7 linked regions of the Homo sapiens genome follow. The protein of the gene in region 1 interacts with the protein of each later gene in a pairwise test. Each region holds a gene or a part of one and is shown on either strand. Other genes may lie near its edges.

Region 1 (2,165 bases):
AAGAGCTTTCTCAGAAGCCCCCAGCAGACTCCCTTTTCATATTATGGTCCAGCAATGAGTCACAGACCTATGCACCACCTGCAAAGGAGCCAGAGAAAACAAACGCCCAGCGCTTTTAGCCTGAAAATGAGAATCTGGTTTGCTGGGGAAGATAAAGGGTGTCGGAAAATGGCTGTTGGGTAAATCATTGATGTCTGCCACTAGGAATGAAAGGCAAATCAGGAACTGGCACACATGCTTTCAGGGAGATGGCTGCAAGGGAGAGGGCAAAGACTGGGAAGTTGCTTATGTGGTGCCAGACTATTTGGAAGATCATGGATTGCGGTGTTTGTGTTGTGTGGTCATCATTTTGTTCTTTGTTTACAGAACAGAGAAAGTGGATTGAACAAGGACGCATTTCCCCAGTACATCCACAACATGCTGTCCACATCTCGTTCTCGGTTTATCAGAAATACCAACGAGAGCGGTGAAGAAGTCACCACCTTTTTTGATTATGATTACGGTGCTCCCTGTCATAAATTTGACGTGAAGCAAATTGGGGCCCAACTCCTGCCTCCGCTCTACTCGCTGGTGTTCATCTTTGGTTTTGTGGGCAACATGCTGGTCGTCCTCATCTTAATAAACTGCAAAAAGCTGAAGTGCTTGACTGACATTTACCTGCTCAACCTGGCCATCTCTGATCTGCTTTTTCTTATTACTCTCCCATTGTGGGCTCACTCTGCTGCAAATGAGTGGGTCTTTGGGAATGCAATGTGCAAATTATTCACAGGGCTGTATCACATCGGTTATTTTGGCGGAATCTTCTTCATCATCCTCCTGACAATCGATAGATACCTGGCTATTGTCCATGCTGTGTTTGCTTTAAAAGCCAGGACGGTCACCTTTGGGGTGGTGACAAGTGTGATCACCTGGTTGGTGGCTGTGTTTGCTTCTGTCCCAGGAATCATCTTTACTAAATGCCAGAAAGAAGATTCTGTTTATGTCTGTGGCCCTTATTTTCCACGAGGATGGAATAATTTCCACACAATAATGAGGAACATTTTGGGGCTGGTCCTGCCGCTGCTCATCATGGTCATCTGCTACTCGGGAATCCTGAAAACCCTGCTTCGGTGTCGAAACGAGAAGAAGAGGCATAGGGCAGTGAGAGTCATCTTCACCATCATGATTGTTTACTTTCTCTTCTGGACTCCCTATAATATTGTCATTCTCCTGAACACCTTCCAGGAATTCTTCGGCCTGAGTAACTGTGAAAGCACCAGTCAACTGGACCAAGCCACGCAGGTGACAGAGACTCTTGGGATGACTCACTGCTGCATCAATCCCATCATCTATGCCTTCGTTGGGGAGAAGTTCAGAAGGTATCTCTCGGTGTTCTTCCGAAAGCACATCACCAAGCGCTTCTGCAAACAATGTCCAGTTTTCTACAGGGAGACAGTGGATGGAGTGACTTCAACAAACACGCCTTCCACTGGGGAGCAGGAAGTCTCGGCTGGTTTATAAAACGAGGAGCAGTTTGATTGTTGTTTATAAAGGGAGATAACAATCTGTATATAACAACAAACTTCAAGGGTTTGTTGAACAATAGAAACCTGTAAAGCAGGTGCCCAGGAACCTCAGGGCTGTGTGTACTAATACAGACTATGTCACCCAATGCATATCCAACATGTGCTCAGGGAATAATCCAGAAAAACTGTGGGTAGAGACTTTGACTCTCCAGAAAGCTCATCTCAGCTCCTGAAAAATGCCTCATTACCTTGTGCTAATCCTCTTTTTCTAGTCTTCATAATTTCTTCACTCAATCTCTGATTCTGTCAATGTCTTGAAATCAAGGGCCAGCTGGAGGTGAAGAAGAGAATGTGACAGGCACAGATGAATGGGAGTGAGGGATAGTGGGGTCAGGGCTGAGAGGAGAAGGAGGGAGACATGAGCATGGCTGAGCCTGGACAAAGACAAAGGTGAGCAAAGGGCTCACGCATTCAGCCAGGAGATGATACTGGTCCTTAGCCCCATCTGCCACGTGTATTTAACCTTGAAGGGTTCACCAGGTCAGGGAGAGTTTGGGAACTGCAATAACCTGGGAGTTTTGGTGGAGTCCGATGATTCTCTTTTGCATAAGTGCATGACATATTTTTGCTTTATTACAGTTTATCTATGGCACCCATGCA
Region 2 (3,500 bases), on another chromosome or scaffold:
GAGCTCCTGACCTCAGGCGATCTGCCTGCCTCGGCCTCCCAAAATGCTGGGATTACAGGTGTGAGCCACTGTGCCTGGATCAAGAGTAGTTTATTGTTTATTTTTTTGAGATGGAGTCTTGCTCTGTCACCCAGGCTGGAGTGCAGTGATGCGATCTTGTCTCACTGCAAGCTCCGCCTCCCGGGTTCACACCATTCTCCTGCCTCAGCCTCCCGAGTAGCTGGGACTACAGGCGCCCGCCACCATGCCCGGCTAATTTTTTGTATTTTTAGTAGAGACGGGGTTTCACCGTGTTAGCCAGGATGGTCTCAATCTCCTGACCTCGTGATCCGCCCGCCTCGGCCTCCCAAAGTGCTGGGTTTCAGGCGTGAGCCACCACGCCCGGCCAAGAGTGGTTTCTTATGTGTGTCTCCAGGGACTTCACACACACACACACACACACACACACACACACACATGCATTTCAGATAAGTGTGTCTTGTATCTGTGTACTTCTTCCACACAAATGATAGCATGCTACAATTTTGCACCTTGCTTTTTTCACTTAAATAGGTAGCCTGGAGATTGTCCATCCTTATACACAGAGCTGTTGCATTGTCTTCTTTGAGGGGTGGGGGGATATCTTTTTACTCACTGCATCATGCACCATTGTACAGATGTATCATAATTTATCTAAACTAGTCCCCATTGATGAACTTGTATATATCACATATATAAGCTAATTTTAAAAAGGAAACTTAAATCACTAGGAAGTGGGAAACCTGTATTATCTGTCACAATAGAAGCTAACAAGGTAATTAAATACAACAAATATGTAACAATGTTAATACATTCCAGACAGATACAACTGGAGTGAAAAAGACTGAACTATGATTCAATTTCCAGAACCCAGAAAGAAAAAAGGAAGAGGAATGAAATAAAGAAATTCAGCAAAAAAAAAAAAAACACTACAACAAAATTTTGCAAGGCAAAAAAAAAAAAAAAAAAAACACCATGAGAGGGGGAAAAAAACCCAGCAAAACAAACAAATTAGGAAAGAAATATTTGCAAATAATCCAGAACTCCTAGCAGTTATTAAGGCAAAGACCAACCACACTCAGTAGAATGAGCAAAGAATACAAACAGACAAGGAAATACAAACGGCTCTTAAACATCTTTTAGATCCTGGCGCCGCGCCTTGCATTTATAATTTCAGCACTTTGGGAGGCCGAGGCAGGAGTACTGCTTGAGCCCAGGAGTTCGAGACCAGCCTGGGCAATATAGTGAGACCATGTCTCTACCAAAAATTAGCTGGGCATGGTGAGGAGCACCTGTAGTCCCAGCTACTCGGCAGGCTGAGGTGGTAGGATGGCTTGAGCCCTGGAGGCGGAGGTTGCAGTGATTCCTGATCGTGCCACTCCACTCCAGCCTGGGTGACAGAGTGAGATCCTGTCTCAAAAACCAACAAACAACCCAAACACATTTTTTAAAAGGTCAACCTCACTGATAAGAGACTGAAAATAGGCTAGGTTTGGTGGCTCATGCCTGTAATCCCAGCACTTTGGAAGGCTGAGGCAGGCAGATCATCTGAGGTCAGGAGTTCGAGGCCAGTCTGGCCGACATGGTGAAACCCTGTCTCTACTAAAAATATAAAAATTAGCTGGGCATCATGGCTCATGCCTATAATCCCAGCACTTTGGAAGGCTGAAGCAGGCAGATCACCTGAGGTCAGGAGTTCAAGACCAGCTTGGCCAACATGGCCAAACCCCGTCTCTACTAAAAATACAAAAATTAGCCGGGCTTGGTGGTGGGCGCCTGTAATCCCAGCTACTCGGGAGTCTAAGGCCAGAGAATTGCTTGAACCCAGGAGGCAGAGGTTGCAGTGAGTCAAGATCATGCCACTACACTCCAGGCTGGGTGACAGAGTGAGACTCTGTCTCAAAAAAAAAAAAAAAAGAGAGAGAGAGAAATGAAAATAACACTACATTGACCTATCATTTTGGTCTATTCGATTGGGGCACATCCAGAAGTGTGTTAAATCACCATGTTGGGAGGCTGTGGGAACAGGAACCTTCCAGGAGGCATGCTGTTGCAGGCAGGAAGGGTGTGACCTCTCCGGAAGGCATTTGGCAATCTACATCACAATCCCAAATGCATGTATCCTCCCACCCAGTAGTCCCACTCCTGGAAACATATCGTACAGATGCACTTGGTGGCATTTCTTGCAGCAGGGTGCGCAACAGCAAAGGAATAGAAAACCCGAAGTGTCTGTCAACAAAGGGACTGACCACACAGTCACACCACAGCTGCATGGTGGAATACTATAGAAGCCATAAAGAAAGAAGCAATTGCACTCCACACACTGAGACAAAAGGACCCCCAAGATTCATTTTTTAAGTGTAAAAGAAAAAGTGCAGAAGGATGTGGCTAGACTATATATCTTGGGGAGACTATATAAACTGGGAGAGAGAGGAATCTAGAGCCACATTTGCATAGGTCTCCTTAAAGAAAGTCTTAAAATGGGATATAGAAAACTGAGAGTGGGCATGAAGGAGTCAACTTTAACCAAAAGGGAACAGAGATTTTTCACTGTACTCCTTCCCTGTCTATTTTATTCTTGAGCATTGTAAATACATTACCTATTAAAGAAATTAGGGGCCGGGTGCGGTGGCTCACGCCTGTAATCCCAGCACTCTGGGAGGCCGAGGCGGGCGGATCACCTGAGGTCAGGAGTTTGAGACCAGCCTGATCAACATGGTGAAACCCTGTCTCCACTAAAAATACAAAAATTAGTCAGGCCATGGTGGTGCGTGCCTGTAATCCCAGCTACTTAAGAGGCTGAGGCAGGAGAATCACTTGAACTTGGGAGGCAGAGGTTGCAGTGAGCTGAGGTCACGTCACTGCACTCCAGCCTGGGTGACAGAGCAAGACTCTGCCTCAAACAAACAAAATAAAAATAAAGAAAAAGAAATTAGGTAATAAAGGTATGAAAAAGATGGACACAGCTTGCTGTGCACTGATACAGAATATCCCTAGGTGTATTGCCCTGGGGAAAAGCATGGCTTGGCACATGCCCAGACAGCACCTATCTGTGGTTAAGTGAGGATGTGGGTTTTATGTAGAAATATGCATCCACTCACCCTGGAATGAGACACAAGGCATGTGGTTGCCTGGGGTGAGGGCAGCTGTGGGGCGTGGTCAGTCAGGGATGAGAGAGATTACATTTTCTTGATTACCCTTTCTACTATTTGAGTGCTTTGTATTATGTCTCTGTAATTTTTTTTTCAAAGAATAAAACAATTCCATCAGTAGAGAAACAGCTAAATGAGCAGAGGCTGCCGGGACACTACGGGTTACTCCACAACAGTTTACAAGGAAGGAAGACAAGTCTCAAAACATGAAGAGTGGCCAGGCACGGTGGCTCATGCCTGTAATCCCAGCACTTTGGGAGGCAGAGACAGGCAGATCACCTGAGGTCAAGAGTTCAAGACCAGCCTGGCCAACATGGTGAAGCCCCGTCT
Region 3 (3,500 bases), on another chromosome or scaffold:
TTTTGGTAGAGACAGGGTTTCACCATGTTGCCCAGGCTGGCTTTGAACTCCTGGACTCGAGTGATCTGCCTGCCTTGGCCTCTCAAATTGCTGGGATTACAGGTGTGAGCCACTCTGCCCAGTCTGGGTGGATCTCTTGAGCTCAGGAGTTTGAGACCAGCCTGCACAACATGCCAAAACCCTGTCTCTACAAACAAATACAAAAAACTAGCCAGGCATGGTGGCACACGCCTGTAGTCCCAGCTACCTGGGAGGCTGAGGTGGGAGAATCACCTGAGCCCAGGAAGTCAAGACTGCAGTGAGCCGTGACTGCACCACTGCCCTTCCGCCTGGATGACGGAAGGAGATCTTGTTTCAAAACAAACAAACAAATAATAAAAAAGTGAGTATTTTAAATTTAATCTAGTATCGTTAAGGAAAAGAGAGAAGTAAGAAAAGGGGAAGCAGAAAAGGTCGGGAGACCTCGGCACGTGGCGCAGAGCTGAACACCTACTTGCCACCAATGGTCGTCATCTCCTTGGGGCTTCTTGGAAATAATGCCAGTTCTGAACCACAGGTTCCCATGGATGTCCAGGGCCCAGAGAGTCTGCTGATCCCCGAGCGTTATGCAGACGGGTTCTAAAGCTTGCCTTTCGCTGAAAATAAGGAGGAGAACAGGGGGGTCAGCACCCATAGGCAGAGTGCCCAGTGTGTCTGGACTGCGGACATCCAGGGTCTCCCGGCAGGCGTGGCTGGGAGAAGAGACGTGGCCCTGGAGCGGATCAGCAGGTGCCAGGGAAGGAAGTTTGGGTCTGAGTTAAATTACTGTGCAAGAGATATGGTTCAAGTGGGTGGCAGCTTTTGAAAGACACACTGATGACCCAGAATGGCTGGGAACACTCTTAAGAGAGAAAATAACCTAAGAAAAAAGCGAGTAGGCACAAAAGGAATCCAAGGCCCCTGAGCGCCTCCATCTCTCTACTCCTTCCCCTACCAATCCAAGGCCCCTGAGTGCCTCCATCTCTCTACTCCTTCCCCCGCCAATCCAAGGCCCCTGAGTGCCTCCATCTCTCTACTCCTTCCCCCGCCAATCCAAGGCCCCTGAGCGCCTCCATCTCTCTACTCCCTCCCTCACCAAGGGAATGACTGTAAACTCCCCCGATGTGCCAGGCTATTCTGTGCAGCTGGACCTAGGCAGACACTGCCCTCTTTGCTGGAGACGCCCTCCCCCTCCTTCCATATGGGGAAGTCCTCGTCAGCTTCAAGGCTTAGCTGTTGGTCCACTCTGCATGCTGCCTTCCTGATCTCTGCATGGAGTCCATGGTTCCCTCAGTGCTGCATGCTCCACACTCCTGTTTAGGGCCATCTGTGCTAATGGGTGTCCATCCATGCACGGGGCCCCCATGAGACTTGGAACTGATGAGAGCAGGGCCAGTCTCAGCCCTCTTGGCGCACCCAGCCCCTAGCACCATTCTGGCTTTTTGTTGTTGTTGCTTTTTTTTGTCTGTCTGTTTTTTGAGATGGAGTCTTGCTCTGTCACCCAGGCTGGAGTGCAATGGTGCGATCTCAGCTCTCTGCAACTTCCGCCTCCCAGGTTCAAGTGATTCTCCTGCCTCAGCCTCCTGAGATGCCCGGTTAATTTTTGTATTTTTAATAGAGACGGGATTTCACTATGTTGGTCAGTCTGGTCTCGAACTCTTGACCTCGTGATCCGCCTGCCTTGGCCTTCCAAAGTGTTGGGATTACAGGCGTGAGCCACCACACCTGGACCATTCTGGCTCTTAATAGGTATTCACTGAAAGTTTATTGGCTTGCTAAATTCAAACCAAGAATATCCTAATCTAGTTTTTCAAAGGACTATTAATACTTCCATACTAGTAAAATGATCTGATGGCAATTCTATAACTAACATCTTGAATGGTAAAAAAAAAAATAGCTTAATAAATTACAGTTCAGAGATCGGGCCAGGCATAGTGGCTCATGTCTGTAATCCCAGCACTTTGGGAGGCCAAGGCAGGAGAATTGCTTGAGCCCAAGAGTTCGAGATGAGTCTGGGCAACATGATGAAAACCCAAAACTCATCTCTACAAAAAATACAAAAATTAGCTGGGCATGGTGGCATGCATCTGTAGTCCCAGCTACTCAGGAGGCTGAGGCAGGAGGATCACCTGAGCCCGGAGGTCAAGGCTGCAGTGAGCCGTGATCGTGGCACTGCACCCCAGCCTGGGTGACAGAGTGAGAACCTGTATCAAAAAAAAAAAAAAAAGCTACAGTTCAGAGATCAACTTCGATTAGCATGAAAATAAAGAAAAATATTTGGACCTAAGCCGTCACAGACACTAAACCAGAACTACCTGACGGTGGGCAATTCTGAATAGAGACCGTCATGACAGACTCATGACGCTGTGATGCTCAGGGCTGCGCAGAGGGCGGCAGCATTTTTAAAAAGCGAGCTCTGACTCAACGTCCAGTTTGCCGGTCAGAATTAGGCAGAGATTCAAGCTTAGCCTATAGCCATGGAGGCTGCAGGTGCTGCCTCCCAGGAACGGCCTCATGGTGCCTTGTGGTGTCAAGTGGACAAGAACGAAGGGTAGGACAAGCACGATGTGAAAGGAGTCTCTGGCCCGCCAGTACCTGACAATGTCACACTTCCACTGCTCGCCTTCCGGACAGAAGCTGCTCACGCCCTCCCGGTACAGGAGGGCCCTCTGCTCTGTCAGCGCCCACACCACATTGTTCCGGGCTGTGATCTGGGACAGCGGGTAGGGACAGTCCACCTTTACGGCTCTGGCACAAGGGCGATCCACGCTCAGACCTGCCAGGAAGATGGGAAGAAGCCCCAAAGACACACAGTCAGAACTCCACACCTCATTTTGACTTGGTTATTGGCTTATTTTTCCTTTTTTGGTATTTTGCTATATTCTTTTATGATGAGTGCTTTAAAAAAAAACTTTAATTAATTAATTAATTAAAAATATAGACGGGGCCTTTCTACGTTGCCCAGGCTGATCTCAAACTCCTGGGCTCAAGAGATCCTCCCACCTCAGCCTCCCAAAGTGCTGGGATTACAGGCAGGAGCTGCCCTGTCCGGCCGCTTTTTTGTTGTCAAGTTTAATCAACATAAAGTGGTTAAATTCTGCCTAAATGTAACATCTATCTGAAAACAGTTTTAGACACTCTTTGAAAACTGAACAATTCAGAATTATCTGGTGTCCCAATGTAGCTTAAGAAGTTCTAAGAGAAGAACACAAAAGCCAAGAGCAGGAGAGTGGCCAGATGGAGGCCCAAAGGCTGCAGGGCAGAGCAGCTCTTCCAGGCAGAGGGCTGCAGCGCTGCTGGAGTTGGCAGGGACCTGAGGCCTGCAGTCGTTCCTGCAGAGAGCTCCAGCACGGCGGCTCCTCTCTGCTCTGACTGGGTGCGAGGTTCCACTAATAAAATGAAACCCCGAATTTCCCAGATGAAATCTGAGGTCTGTCAAACTGCAAGGCAGTGGCAGGCCAAAGCTCAGGGTCCCTGGCTCC
Region 4 (2,432 bases), on another chromosome or scaffold:
CCCTTCTTCCCTCTCCCATTTCTTCTCTTTTCCCCTCTTCCTGTTCTCTTTTTCTCGCTGTCCTCTCTGTGGCCACCCTCCTTTTTCTCACTTCTGCTCTCCCTGTCCGGCTCTTCTCTCTCCTCTCTCCCTTCTAGCAGATTCTCTGGCTGTTTCCTCTCCTCTCCCTCTGTGCTCCTCCCTCCTCCTCTCTCCTCCCAGCCACTATCCTCTCTCTTCACCCTCTTCTCTTTCTGTCTCATGGTCTCCTCCTAGCTCTTTTCCTTCCCAGTTCCTAGCTCTCTCCTTTCTCTTTCCTCTTCTCTGGCTGGAGCTCCCCGCTCCTCCATCCCTCCCTCTCCCGGGGCCCCCTCTCCCCCACCCTCTTCTCCCCCAACACCCTCTCCCCCACCCACTTCTCCCTAGGACGCTCCCTCCTTCACCCGTTTCTCTGCTTCCCTCTTCTCCGAGCTCACCAGCCATGGCACCCACCCTCTCCCTCTCTTCCTTCCTGTCCCTTTTTTCACCCCCTCGTCTTTCTTTCCTCTTCTGTTTTTTCTTCTCTTTCCACTTCTGACCCCCTACACTGTTTCCTTCTTTCTCCCTCTTCCTCTCTCCCCTCCTGCTCTGGCCATCTTTTCTTTTTTTTTTTTTTTTTTTTTTTGAGACGGAGTCTCGCTCTGTCGCCCAGGCTGGAGTGCAGTGGCGCAATCTCGGCTCACTGCAAGCTCCGCCTCCAGGGTTCACGCCATTCTCCTGCCTCAGCCTCCCGAGTAGCTGGGACTACAGGCGCCTGCCACCATGCCCTGCTAATTTTTTTTTTGTATTTTTAGTAGAGACAGGGTTTCACCGTGTTAGCCAGGACGGTCTCGATCTCCTCACCTCGTGATCTGCCTGCCTTGGCCTCCCAAAGTGCTGGGATTACAGGCGTGAGCCACCGTGCCCGGCTCTTTCCTCCTGCTTTTTTCCTACACTCTCTCCTCCCTCCTCTCCTCCCTCTTTCTCCTGTTTGATTTCCACCTCTTTTCTCTCCTCTCTCCTCTGAATCTGCCTCTTCCTCTTCTCACCTCCCTCTTCCTTCCCTGTCTCTCCCCCTTGGGTCTCTCTTCCTTCCCTCTCTCTGGTTTCTCTGTCTCTGCCCTGTCCTTTCCTTTCCCTCCTCTCTGGACCTGTCTCCTCTCCTGGCTCTCTCTCCTTCAAGCTCTCACTCCCACTGGCCTCCCTCCCGGGAGCCCCGTCTCCTCCGTCTCCAGGTGGCCCCTGCATCCCTGCCTGGTGGGCCTTTGCCTCCCTCTCCTGTTCCTGCCTTGCCTGCTCCCAGGTTTCCAGGTCCTGACCAGGAGGCAGGAGTCCATACCGAGGCCCAAACAGGCTAGCCCTGAGCAGGGCCCCCAAGCCTGAGGCCCAGGAGTGGACAGACCTTTGTGACACCCATTCTCTCTTCCTTTTCCATCTGTCCGGAACTCTGGACACTGCCTGGAGGAATCAGGCCTGCCGTAGGCCCAGGAAGGCGGAAACAAAGACGACGCTCAGAGACAGGAAGCAACTTGCCTAAAGATACACAGCACGTAAGGAGCAGGGACAGGACTGGGTGGGGCCCCTGGGGTTGGCCAGGAGTGGGCTCCTGAATCTGCCGATCCCTGGCCTCCTATCTGAGCTCAGTGAGCAGCGGATGACGCCTTTCTGCTCCATTCCGCTCCCTTCCCAACTCTTCCTCTGACAACATGAAGCACCTCAGCACTGAGGGGACCTCACCTGAATTCCATTTCAGAAATGAGAAAATTGGTGCCCAATGTTTCTGAAGACCAGCAACTGCTAAGACAGAGACTTCGAGGGAACCCGACCTTGCCTGAAGGACCAACAGCGCCCCCTGCAGGACACTTCCCTCCATTGAGAGAAGCCACAGGCGCCGGCCTGAGGCATTCTGAGTGCGTGGAATCCTCTATTACCACCTCCTGGCAAAGAACGGAGCTGCAACCCAGCTATATGAGACACCGAGAATGATCTCAACAAAAAGGAACAGTGACCAGAATGCCTGGGGGAGGAACAGGGGATACTGGGTGGAAGGAGGGGAGAGGGAGAAGTTGTAATATTTTGTAAAAATGAACATTTTTACTCCTAATCAATATACAAACATCATGCTCAGCAAACTTCTTGGTATGAAACTTCTGAACTTCACACATTTTCAAGTCATTCTATGGGTGGGTGGATTGGCTCCCATGGAAATGCAACTGGGACTGCACATGGGAAACAAAGGAAAATGGAATTTGGTTCACACAAACCTGTTTGGGAGATTGCATTTCCAGGAAATGGGCCAAATTGAGTTTGTTTCCTTTGTAACAACATTGTTGTGCCTTGCTGACTGGAAGGTGGGTACAAATAAAGGAGGATGGACTGACAGCTGAAGAGGCACCAGTAATTAGCCCCTAATCCTTACCAGGGAGTCTCTCTGA
Region 5 (3,500 bases), about 80 Mb from region 1:
AAGAATTCTTAACTAGCAAAATTATCTTTTCAAAGTAAAGGAGAAATTAAGAGATTTTCAGATAAACAGACACAGAGCATTCGTCCCCAGCACACCTGCCCTAAAGGAAACACGAAAGGGAGTCTTTAAGGCCGAATTAGGATCCTAGACACTAGCTAGAATCCACACAGAGGAAGGAAGAGCATCGGCAAAGGTAACCACCTAGACAGATTTTTTTTTTTAAGTATAAACACATTTTTGTTAGTAACTCTTTTTACTCTTATCCAATTTAAAGACAACCACATAAATCAAGTTGGAATTAAGTTGTTATTGATCCAAACACGATTATTATAAACCAAGGTGCTGATTGTAATCCTCAGGGCAACTGCTAAGAAAAAAAAATATAAAAGAAATAACAAGTGAATAAAAGTGATACACTAGGAAAGATCTACTTAGTACAAAACAATGCAGTAATGGGGAAACAGGGAAAAAAGACATTAGACAGACAGAAAACAAATAGCAAAATGGCAGACATAAATCCCATCTTATCAATTATTACATTAAGTATAAATGGATAGGTTGGAAGTAAAAGGATTTAAATAAATATACCATGCAAACAATAACCAAAAGATAACTGGAGTGGCTTTAATACTATTAATAATATCAGGCAAAACAGACATAAAAACAAGAATTCTTACTACAGACAAAGAAGGATATTTGATAATGATAAAAGGGTCAATCTATCAAGAAGCTATAACAATTACAAACGTACATATGCCTAACAACAAAGCCCCCAAATACATAAAAGTGGCAGAACTGAAGGAAGAAAAAGACAATTCAATAATAATAGTTGGACATACCTCACTTCCAACAATTGATAATACAATTTGACAGAATTTCAACAAAAGAAAGAGGACTTCAACAACATTATAAACCAATTAGATCAAACACATCTATACAAAACACTCCGCGCAACAATAGCAGAATACTCAATCTTATCAAGTGCACATGGAACATTTTGCAGGCTTGATCTATCTTAGGAAAAATAACTTCAATAATTTAAGACTGAAATCATACAAAATATGTTTTCCAACCACAACAAAATAAAATTAGAAATCAATAACAGAAGGACATTTAGGAAATTTATAAATATGCGGAAATTAAACAACTTTTTTTTTTTTTTTTGAGATAGGGTCTTATTCTGGCACCCAGGCTGGAGTGCAATGGCATGATCACAGCTCACTGCAGCTTAGACCTCTGGGGCTCATGTAATCCTCCCTTCTCAGCCCCCCAAGTAGCTGGGACTACAGGTGTGTGCCACCATGCCCAGCTAAATTATTTTTTAAAGTTTTGTAGAGATGGGATATCACTGTGTTGCTCAGGCTGGTCTCAAACTCCTGAGCTCAAGTGATCTGCTCACCTCGGCCTCCCAAAGTGCTAGGATTACAGGCATGAGCCACCATGCCCCAGCCCATACTCTTAAATAAGTAATGGGTCAAAGACAAAAATCACAAGATAAATTAGAAATTTCTTTGAGATGAATGAAAATGAAAATACAACATGCCAAAAAATCATGGCATGTGTTAATGTAGTGCTTAGAGGGAAGTTTATAGCTATAACTATCAATTTCTTTAAAAAGAAATGAACAAATTAATAAATCAATTTTCCACCTTAAGATAAAGAGGAGCAAACTAAACCCAAAAAAGTAGAAGGCAGGAATTAATATAGATTAGACTGGTAATAAATGAAAGAGAATTGTAAAAAAAAATAAAAAAAAAAAAAGGCCAGCAAAACCAAAAGTTGGGTCCTTGAAGAGATCGACAAAACTGACAATCCTTTATGTAGACTGATGAAGAAAAAAAGACAGAAGACTCAAATAGTTAAATTAGGAATGAAAGAGGAAACATTACAACCAAAACTAAACATAACTATAAGAGAATATATGATTAACTGTAAGCCAACAAATTGGAAAAGCCACCAGTCAGAATGGCTATTATTAAAAAGTCAAAAAATAACAGATGCTGGTGAGGTTGTAGACAAAAGGGAATGCTTATACACTGCTTGTGGGAATGTAAATTAGTTCAGCCATTGTGGAAAGCAGTGGAGGTGATTTCTCAAAGAACTTAAAACAGAAGTACCATTCAACCCAGCAATCCCATTATTGGGTGTATACCCAAAGAAATATACATCATTCTACCATAAAGACACACGCACAGGTATGTTCATCGCAGCACTATTCACAATAGCAAAGACACAAAATCAGCCTAATGCCTGTCAACAGAAGACTGAATAAAGAATATGTAGTACATATGCCCATGGAACACTATGCAGCCATGAAAAAACAAGATCATGTCATCTGCAGCAACATGGATGGAACTGGAGGCCATAATCCTAAACAACCTAATGCAGAAACAGAAACCCAATACCATGTTTCACTTATAAGTGAGAGCCAAACATTGGGTACACATGCATATAAAGAAGGGAACAACAGACACCAGGGCCTACTTGAGAACAGAGGGTGAGAGGAGAAAGAGGATCAAAAAAACTACCTATCTGGCCAGATGCAGTGGCTCATGCCTGTAATCCCAGCACTTTGGGAGGCCGAGGCAAGCAGATTGCTTGAGCTCAGGAGTTGAAGACCAGCTTAGGCAAGATGGTGAAACCCTCTACAAAAAATACAAAAATTAGCCAGTCATGGTGGAGTGTACCTGTAGTCCCAGCTACTCAGGAGGCTGAGGCAGGTGGCGCTTGAGCGTGGGAGGCGGAGGTTGCAGTGAGCCGAGATTGCACCACTGCACTCCAGCCTGGGTGGCAGAACAAGACCCTGTCTCAGAAAAAAAACAAAAACAAACAAACAAAATCCAAAAAACTACTTATTAGGTACTATGTTTATTACCTGGGTGACAAAATCATCTGTACACCAAACCCCCATGATACCTAATTTATAACAAACCTGCACATGTACCCCTGAACCTAAACGTTAAAAAATAAATAAAGCTAAAAAAATTAGAAAACCTAGATGAAATGTACAAATTCCTAGAAACACAAACTAGTAATACTGACTCGTGAAGAAATAAAAAATATTAATAGATCTACAGATAAAGAGATTGAATTAGTAATCAAAAAACTTCCCACAAAGAAAAGCTTAACACCAGATGGCTTCACTAGAGAAGTCTACCAAGCATTTAAAAAAAAATAACACAAATCCTTCATAAACTCTCAACAACAAATTGGAGAAGGGAACACTTCCCAACCGCTTGTATGAGACCAGTGTAAAGACAACCCAAGAAAGCTACAGACCAATGTGTGTTATGAATACAGACACAAAATCCTCAGCAGAATACTAATAAACTCAAGCCACTAGTACATACAAAGACTTTTACAATATAACCAAGTGGGATTTATTTCAGGAATGCAAAGTTGGTTCAATATATGAAAATCAATGTAATACACCAAATTAATAGAATAATGGGGAGAAAACATAGCTCAACAGACACAGAAAAAGCATTTGGCAACAACTA
Region 6 (3,500 bases), on another chromosome or scaffold:
ATAAAACTTGGAATAAATACTACATTTTATCAAATCTAAGATACCACTGGTTGTAATTTGCACAATTATTTTATGAAACACTAAAGAAAAAATGCTGCCAAATAAACTATGACCACCCATCAATAACAAGATGCCTTCCAATTTCAGAGATGAGAAAATGTCAAAACATATGTTTTAGAGTGGACAAATGATGGCACTTTATATTGTGGCATTTTAATCAGATCCTTTCTTGCGAGTACCCCCATAAAAACACCCCATGCGCTATAAATCTGAGGTGTTTGCAATACGTATATGTGACTGCTTTTCTTCTTTTTTTTTTTTTTTTTTTTTTGAGACAGAGTCTGGCTCTGTCACCCAAGCTGGAAGTGCAGTGGGGTGATCTTGGCTCACTGCAAGCTCTGCCACCCGGGTTCAAGCAATTCTCTGCCTCAGTCTCCCGAGTAGCTGGGCTTACAGGCACCCGCCACCATGCCTGGCTAATTTTTGTATTTTTAATAGAGATGGGGTTTCATCATCTTGGCCAGGCTGGTCTTGAACTCCTGACCTCATGATCCACCCCCGCCTCGGCCTCCCAAAGTGCTGGGATTATAGGTGTGAGCCAACATGCCTGGCTGTGACTCCTTTTCTCTAGTCTCCTATTCCTGGTTCTACTGCCCCCCTACTAAAGACAAAACACATGACGAAACTTAACTTTAAAAGCCTTTGCAGAGACACTGTCCCTTTTGACCTTCACCGTGACCTCATGGGGAAGAGAGGACAGAAGGAGACCGACCCTATTAAGTTTGGGGCCTTGACCAAGGTCGCACAGCCAGGGATACAGCAGGGCCCTCTGATCCCCAGGTGGTCTTTTCAACCAGAGTACATGGCCCCACTTCCAGCTGAATGTGCCGTAAAGGCATCAGATGTCCCAAAAGTTTCTCTCCAACAGTCCAAGGTCATCATCACCTCAGGCTTTAGCAAATCCCAGAGCAGGGATCACGGGGAAAGATGGTGCATTTTCAGGTACACCTCCTCTTCCCAGTTCAAAGGACCCTGCCGCACAGGCCACATGTCAGGAGGCGCCCGAGAGTGGAGGGTCTGCCAGAGCCCCTCTGGGGCTCTGGGTGGCAGCTGGGGCCAGTCCCTGAGTTTTCATCACTCACTTCCTATTACCACATCTGACACAAGATCCTGGGTGCAAACAGCCAGCTGGAGCTGGAACGTCAGGTTGTGCAGATCCAGAATTCACTGTCACCCTTCAGGCGACATGAACAGAGAATCCTGGAGCCCCACGCAGAACTGGAAGGACCTGAAGCCTGGCCGAGGGAGCCTGTGCTTTGTAACAGACTCATCCAAACCCGGCGCTGACCTGGCAGGAGGGTGGGGCAGTTCCCTGATGGCTCTGCTGCCCTTGATCCTCACTCAGCCCTGGCCCCAAGCTAATTAATTTCAAAGATGATCACTTAAAAATACTCAAGGTGAGAAAGAAAATGGGCATCCTCTTCAGAGGATGACGAAAGCCCTCAGTATCTAAAGCAACCAGTCTGAAGCCAACAAGGTTCATAGCCTTGGCCCAACAGAAGCCCTGAGGGAGCTGAGCATCTGAGCCTGGGTTTTTGTTTTTGTTTTTTGTTTTGTGAGCACAATGAGGGTAGCGAGGCTGACCTCATGGGTCTGTGGTGAAGAGCAAAGAGAACAGCTATTGGTACAGGCCAGGTAGATACACTTAATGAACACAATCTCATAGCAGTGTCATGTGTGGGTCCTGCCCACATGGAGGGCTTCATAAGCCCCTAGCCCATTCCAGGGACACACACACACACACTATACACACATATATGCACACACGCACATATACACACTCACGCACATATACACACTCACACGTACGCACACGCATGCTCACAGCCTAGGCGATATGTCTTTACCTGTCTGCTTCTGACACCAGGGCAATGCGGCCATAGTCCCAGAATCTTCTTCTTATAATAGAAAACACCAAGATTAAGAACTAAAAACAGAAAAGAAACCAAGTAAAAGCATATTGGATGGCTTCTCATTAGAAGACACAGCGGTCTCAGGGGTAAAGCCCACCTGCCCGCACTCAGCAGGGCTAGAAGGAAAACACCCAGGCCCAGAGAGGGCACTGAAGTGCCCAAGGCCATGCAGCTCAGTAGCCCGGATGCTTTGCTCACCCCCTTCACCAGGCTCCTGTCACCTGTGCCCACGCCACCAAGGCTGCCAGCGCTGACGCCAAGCTTGCCTGGAGCCTGCCTAGTTCTGCACGTCAGCCCTGTCTCTTGCTCTCAAGGCAGCGGTAACACCACAAGGCCCAGTCTCGGGCCCTGCTCTGCCTTCAGTGGCCCCGAGCAGGAGGGTAAGGTCTGGCCCCAGAGCAGCCCCAGGAACCAGCATCCTTCTTCACTTTACAGAAAATTTTTTTCTTTCGGCTCACTGCAACTTCCCCTCCCGGGTTCAAGCAATTCTTGTGCCTCAGCCTCCAGAGTAGCTGGGACTACAGGTGCCCGCCACCACACCCAGCTAATTTTTGTATTTTAGTAGAGACAGGGTTTCACCATATTGGTCAGGCTGGTCTCGAACTCCTGACCTCAGGTGATCCACCTGCCTCAGCCTCCCAAAGTGCTGGGATTACAGGCGTGAGCCACCATGCTGGCCAGAAAATTTCATTTTAAATTACAGAACCAAGGTAGCAGAGCCTCCTCAGGCTGAGCCAGAAACGGTCAGTTTTTTCCTCTGAGTTTGATTCCCCTGAAGGCAGGCCCCGCAGGCCCTGCAATCCCCCAGCAGAGAGCATGCATGCAGGCAGCAAGGCACCACGAGAACCTGTGCTCGGGCTGGCTTGGCCTCCGTAAGCTGGGACACCTCAGCAAGCTTGTGTCCAATGGCAACCTCAGGGCTGGACTAAGCCGCTTAGCTCTAGACATCTGTACACTCTAGACTGTCCTCACTCCCCACAGTCCACCTTGGCAGGCTCCATGCCATGTTCCTGCCTCTCTTCCCTCCCTAGACAGGGTCCCTCTCTTTGAGGTTCAGGGAGGTAGAGAAATACATCTTAGTAAGCACATCCCTGCCTGCTCTGATCAGAAACGGGGGTTTTGAAGGTAGGCTTTGTTTTCCTAAAGGAAATCCAGAAGACCTGAACCCCAGAGGCACTGAGTTCTCGTGGAATTTTCTTCAGGTGAATCAGGAAGTTGGTGACATATTTTCAAAGGCAGGTGAGTCATGTTGTAGGAAAACCACGAAACCTGCTCAGCAGGTGCCTGCCCTCTCTGTCCACAGCGGCTGCCGCCCTGGCCTGTGCAGTGCAGACACTTCCCACAAACCCATGCTCTCCAGGGCCCTCTGGCTCTTATGTGTCCCCCCTCCCCCACCCCCAAAACTTACTGCAATAAAAATCCACCCCTGGCCGGGCACCATGGCTCACTCCTGTAATCCCAGCACTTTGGGAGGCCAAGGCTGGTGAATCGCTTGAGCTCAGGAGTTTGAGACCAGCCTAGGCAACA
Region 7 (3,500 bases), on another chromosome or scaffold:
ATGGTCTCGATCTCCTGACCTCGTGATCTGCCCGCCTTGCCTCCCAAAGTGCTGGGATTACAGGGGTGAGCCACCGTGCCCGGCTCCAACTTTTCTATTTTTAGTAGAGACAGGGTTTTGCTGTGTTGGCCAAGCTGGTCTGGAACTCCTGGCCTTAACCAATCCGCCCGCCTCGGCCTACCAGAGTGCTGGGATTATAGGTGTAAGCCACCGCGCCCAGCCTTGAGGTTCTTTCTTTTAATGCCCAGAAGTTCATTTAAATGAGTAAGAAACACAACAAAACAAATTAAAAGGGAGCTGTCATGGATTCAGGTAAACCCCTCCCCCACTCCTTTGAGCCGTGGACTAAGCAGTTGGAAAGCCCTGCGTCCCCTGCTTCCCTGCACCTGGGGAACCCATGTGGGATGCTGTGGGAAGAGGACAAGATGGAGCAACATCTGGAGTCTGCCAGCCCTGGGACCCTCCTCTTGCCAGGAATACCCTGCCTCTGAGTAGCAGTAGCCACGTGCCCTTCCTGTGCCAATATAGATTGAGAACCTGCTGCAGGCCAACCCTGGGGCTGGAGCGCAATGCTGACACACTGACATGGGTCAAAAGGCCACAGTGTTTGGCAAGTTATACAATGTGGCCAGGGCCATCTGGCATCCGAGCGTTGGGGGAGAGGTCCTGAATCTTAACACCTCATCCATGGCTTCCTGGGAGAGGGAGGGCTCTTGTGGGTCGTGAGACCCCCAGCGGTGGGATAGGGAGGGTGAGGGGTGGGGACATGAGAAATGCTTCTCTGTGCTGGACCCTGAGCCCAGTTGCTGGCCAAGCTGGGAGGCCATGACTCTCCTAGGAGAGTCAGGATTTGAACTCAGTCTGCCTGACTTCAGAGGTCCTTCCTTGACAGCCCTGTGGGCTTGGAGTGGAGGGTTTTGTGGGGTGCTGTATTTACCTCTCAGAGCTCTGATGTTCCAGCACTCGTCAGGGGTTTGATAAATGGCTAAGGATGAACACTGGTCTGGCACAACAGATACTCACAGAGCCAGCTTTGCCCAAAAGCCAAATTGAAAAGTGGCAGGTTTCTTTGTTTGGCAATTAGCATGTGCTGTTCCCTACTCTCGTCACTCTGGCTGCAGACACGGTATGACCCAGGTTCCATTCCTTTTTTTTATCTCACTCTGTTGCCGAGGCTGGAGTGAAGTGGCATGATCTTGGCTCACTGCAACTTCTGCCTCCCAGGCTCAGGTGATACAGATGTGTGCCACCATATCCAGCTGTTTTTTTTTTTTTTTTTTTTTTTTTGTGTGTGTGTGTGTGTAATTTTAGTAGAGACCTGGTTTCACCATATTGCCCAGGCAGGTCTTGAACTCCTGAGCTCAAATGATCCGCCCACCTTGGCCTCCCAAAGTTCTGGGATCACCGCGTCCTGCCCCTGGTTCTATTCTTAAGGAGTTCCCAAACTGAGTGGCAGATGGGTAATAAGCTAGAGACTGCAGAGGACATAGCAAGAGCAAAGGCCTGGAAGAGAATGGAATGTTCTAGAAAGTAGTCTCATCCCCAGGGAGTGCTGATGGGCTGCTGGGGATCCCAGACTCTGGGCTGTACATTGCTCCCCACCAGTAAAAAAGGCTCCCACAAGAAAATCACAAGCTCTATGGGGCTAGTACCCTTCTCTAAGTCATCACCAACTGTTCATCAGCTTGACACCAGAATAAATAAATACACGTTGAGTGAATGGACTTCATTGCCATGTTCCAGTTCTAGCCACTGGCTGGTGGGGGCAGATGGTGCTGAGGCTGCCCGATCGAGGGTAGCTTGCTATTCTTCACCGATCCAGCAAACACTTGTGGAGGGAATTCTGCCAGGCTTCATGATGGATACTGATAGAAAACGTAACAGCAACCCTTTAAGGAAGGAACTTTCATCCCCGTTTTCTAGGTGAGGAAACCAAGGCCCAGAGCAGGGCTGCCTTGTATCCAACTCCAAGGTGAAAGGAGGCAGCTTGCTGCATTTAAACGTGGGTCTGCTTCCAAGCCCAGCAATGATCAAGCCGGCTATAGTGGGCGCAGCAGAGTGGCAGCATGAATCTGAGATTGGTCGCAGTGTCTTGTGCCTACTGAGGAGCAGGGGCCATGTCCCTCCCCCTACACCTAGCACTGAGCCACACTGAGCACGCTGTTTCTTAATCTGACTGGTCCCCATTTCTTCTCCTTGCACATACTGTTCTGTCCACCTGGAATGTAGCCTTGCCACTGCTTTCCCACTTGGCAGACTCTCTGTGTGTCCTTCACAGCCCAGCTCCAATGTCACCTCCTGGGAACTCATCTTTTTTTGTACCCAGGCAAAACTGGAAATCTTTCCCTCCAGGGTTCTCACAGTGCCTCATACCAGCCCCCTGTTGAAGCCCAGACCACACTAGCCTCTCATCTTCATCTGCCTCCCCACTGCCCCCACCCCACTGTACTGGAAACTCCTTCCTTGGTGTCAGGACTGGGTCCAGTTTCATCCGGGGCCCCAGCTCTACTTAGCATGAGACCTAGAGCATGGGTCACTGGTATTTTAGTCAGTCCTAGTGCAGCAGCTGCCTGGGTGGATGTGGATATGACCCAGGGAGTGGGTAGGCAGGTTTTCTAAAGTCGAGTTTGACCTCGACCTGCTGATGACAAGGTCCAGCGGAGGGGTATGTCCTTGGCCTCCAGCAGCCCCCATTGACAGAGGCTACAGTCGAGCAGCTGCTCAGTGGGGCCCCAGGGATGACTTCAGAGGCTCCAGACCCCTGGAACATCAGATGCAGACCTCAGTAAAACAGGGCCTGTGATAATAGCACTTACCTCACATAGCCAGTGTCATTCACTCATGCTCTACCAACATAATTTTTGCCAGATCCATGGATCATTTGTATTATTTTCCACTTAATGTTTTTATTTAAATTGCTTTGTTCTAAGTAATATGAAATCACAGGGCTTGTAAAAATTATTTTGAATAGGTGATTCCATTCACACCATTCAGAATTCAAAAAAGTGCCAAAGGCTATAAAATGAAATCTCCCTTTCACCCTGTCCCCAGTCACCCAGGCCCCCCCGGGGTTAGAATGTTACCTTTCTTGTACATTCTTGTTTTTTGTTTTTTGTTTTTTTTTTTTTTTGAGACAGAGTCTGCTCTGTCGCCCAGGCTGGAGTGCAGTGGCGCCATCTCGGCTCACTTCATCTCCCAGATAAAGTGATTCTTGTCCCTCAGCCTCCCAAGTAGTTGGGACTACAGGCACGCACCACCATGCCCAGCTAATTTTTGTATTTTTAGTAGAGACAGGGTTTTGCCATGTTGGCCAGGCTGGTCTCGAACTCCTGGCCTCAAGCTGAGATTATAGATGTGAGCCACCGTGCCTAGCCTCTTGTGCATTCTTTTAAATAGATGTGTATATTCTCCCCCTACCCCCAGCCAATTTTTTTTTTTAACCCAAAAGGTAGCATACAATATACACACTGCTCTGTTTTTGGTTTCGCTTTTGTTTTTTG

What was found.
Region 2: the proteins of CCR2 (region 1) and PLLP interact in a two-hybrid assay, tested with the Homo sapiens proteins (one large-scale study listed by BioGRID and IntAct).
Region 3: the proteins of CCR2 (region 1) and TECPR2 interact in a two-hybrid assay, tested with the Homo sapiens proteins (one large-scale study listed by BioGRID and IntAct).
Region 4: the proteins of CCR2 (region 1) and EMC10 interact in a two-hybrid assay, tested with the Homo sapiens proteins (one large-scale study listed by BioGRID and IntAct).
Region 5: the proteins of CCR2 (region 1) and SLC41A3 interact in a two-hybrid assay, tested with the Homo sapiens proteins (one large-scale study listed by BioGRID and IntAct).
Region 6: the proteins of CCR2 (region 1) and TMEM63A interact in a two-hybrid assay, tested with the Homo sapiens proteins (one large-scale study listed by BioGRID and IntAct).
Region 7: the proteins of CCR2 (region 1) and SLC2A1 interact in a two-hybrid assay, tested with the Homo sapiens proteins (one large-scale study listed by BioGRID and IntAct).

Annotation. Positions count from the first base shown.
Region 1 is NC_000003.12:46,357,111-46,359,275, forward strand, and holds part of CCR2 (C-C chemokine receptor type 2), read left to right. Parts: intron 1-366; 5' UTR 367-417; coding exon 418-1,500; 3' UTR 1,501-2,165. UniProt on the Homo sapiens protein: Key functional receptor for CCL2 but can also bind CCL7, and CCL12. Also transduces signaling mediated by CCL13.
Region 2 is NC_000016.10:57,274,673-57,278,172, forward strand, and holds part of PLLP (plasmolipin), read right to left. Parts: intron 1-3,500. UniProt on the Homo sapiens protein: Main component of the myelin sheath that plays an important role in myelin membrane biogenesis and myelination. Plays an essential function in apical endocytosis. Regulates epithelial development through the regulation of apical endocytosis.
Region 3 is NC_000014.9:102,442,941-102,446,440, reverse strand, and holds part of TECPR2 (tectonin beta-propeller repeat-containing protein 2), read right to left. Parts: intron 2,795-3,500; coding exon 2,614-2,794; intron 636-2,613; coding exon 494-635; intron 1-493. UniProt on the Homo sapiens protein: Probably plays a role as positive regulator of autophagy.
Region 4 is NC_000019.10:50,486,507-50,488,938, reverse strand, and holds part of EMC10 (ER membrane protein complex subunit 10 isoform 2 precursor), read right to left. Parts: 3' UTR 1-2,432. UniProt on the Homo sapiens protein: Part of the endoplasmic reticulum membrane protein complex (EMC) that enables the energy-independent insertion into endoplasmic reticulum membranes of newly synthesized membrane proteins.
Region 5 is NC_000003.12:126,070,625-126,074,124, forward strand, and holds part of SLC41A3 (solute carrier family 41 member 3), read right to left. Parts: intron 1-3,500. UniProt on the Homo sapiens protein: Na(+)/Mg(2+) ion exchanger that acts as a predominant Mg(2+) efflux system at the mitochondrial inner membrane.
Region 6 is NC_000001.11:225,872,381-225,875,880, forward strand, and holds part of TMEM63A (mechanosensitive cation channel TMEM63A), read right to left. Parts: intron 1,988-3,500; coding exon 1,908-1,987; intron 1-1,907. UniProt on the Homo sapiens protein: Mechanosensitive cation channel with low conductance and high activation threshold. In contrast to TMEM63B, does not show phospholipid scramblase activity. Acts as a regulator of lysosomal morphology by mediating lysosomal mechanosensitivity.
Region 7 is NC_000001.11:42,945,369-42,948,868, reverse strand, and holds part of SLC2A1 (solute carrier family 2, facilitated glucose transporter member 1), read left to right. Parts: intron 1-3,500. UniProt on the Homo sapiens protein: Facilitative glucose transporter, which is responsible for constitutive or basal glucose uptake. Has a very broad substrate specificity; can transport a wide range of aldoses including both pentoses and hexoses.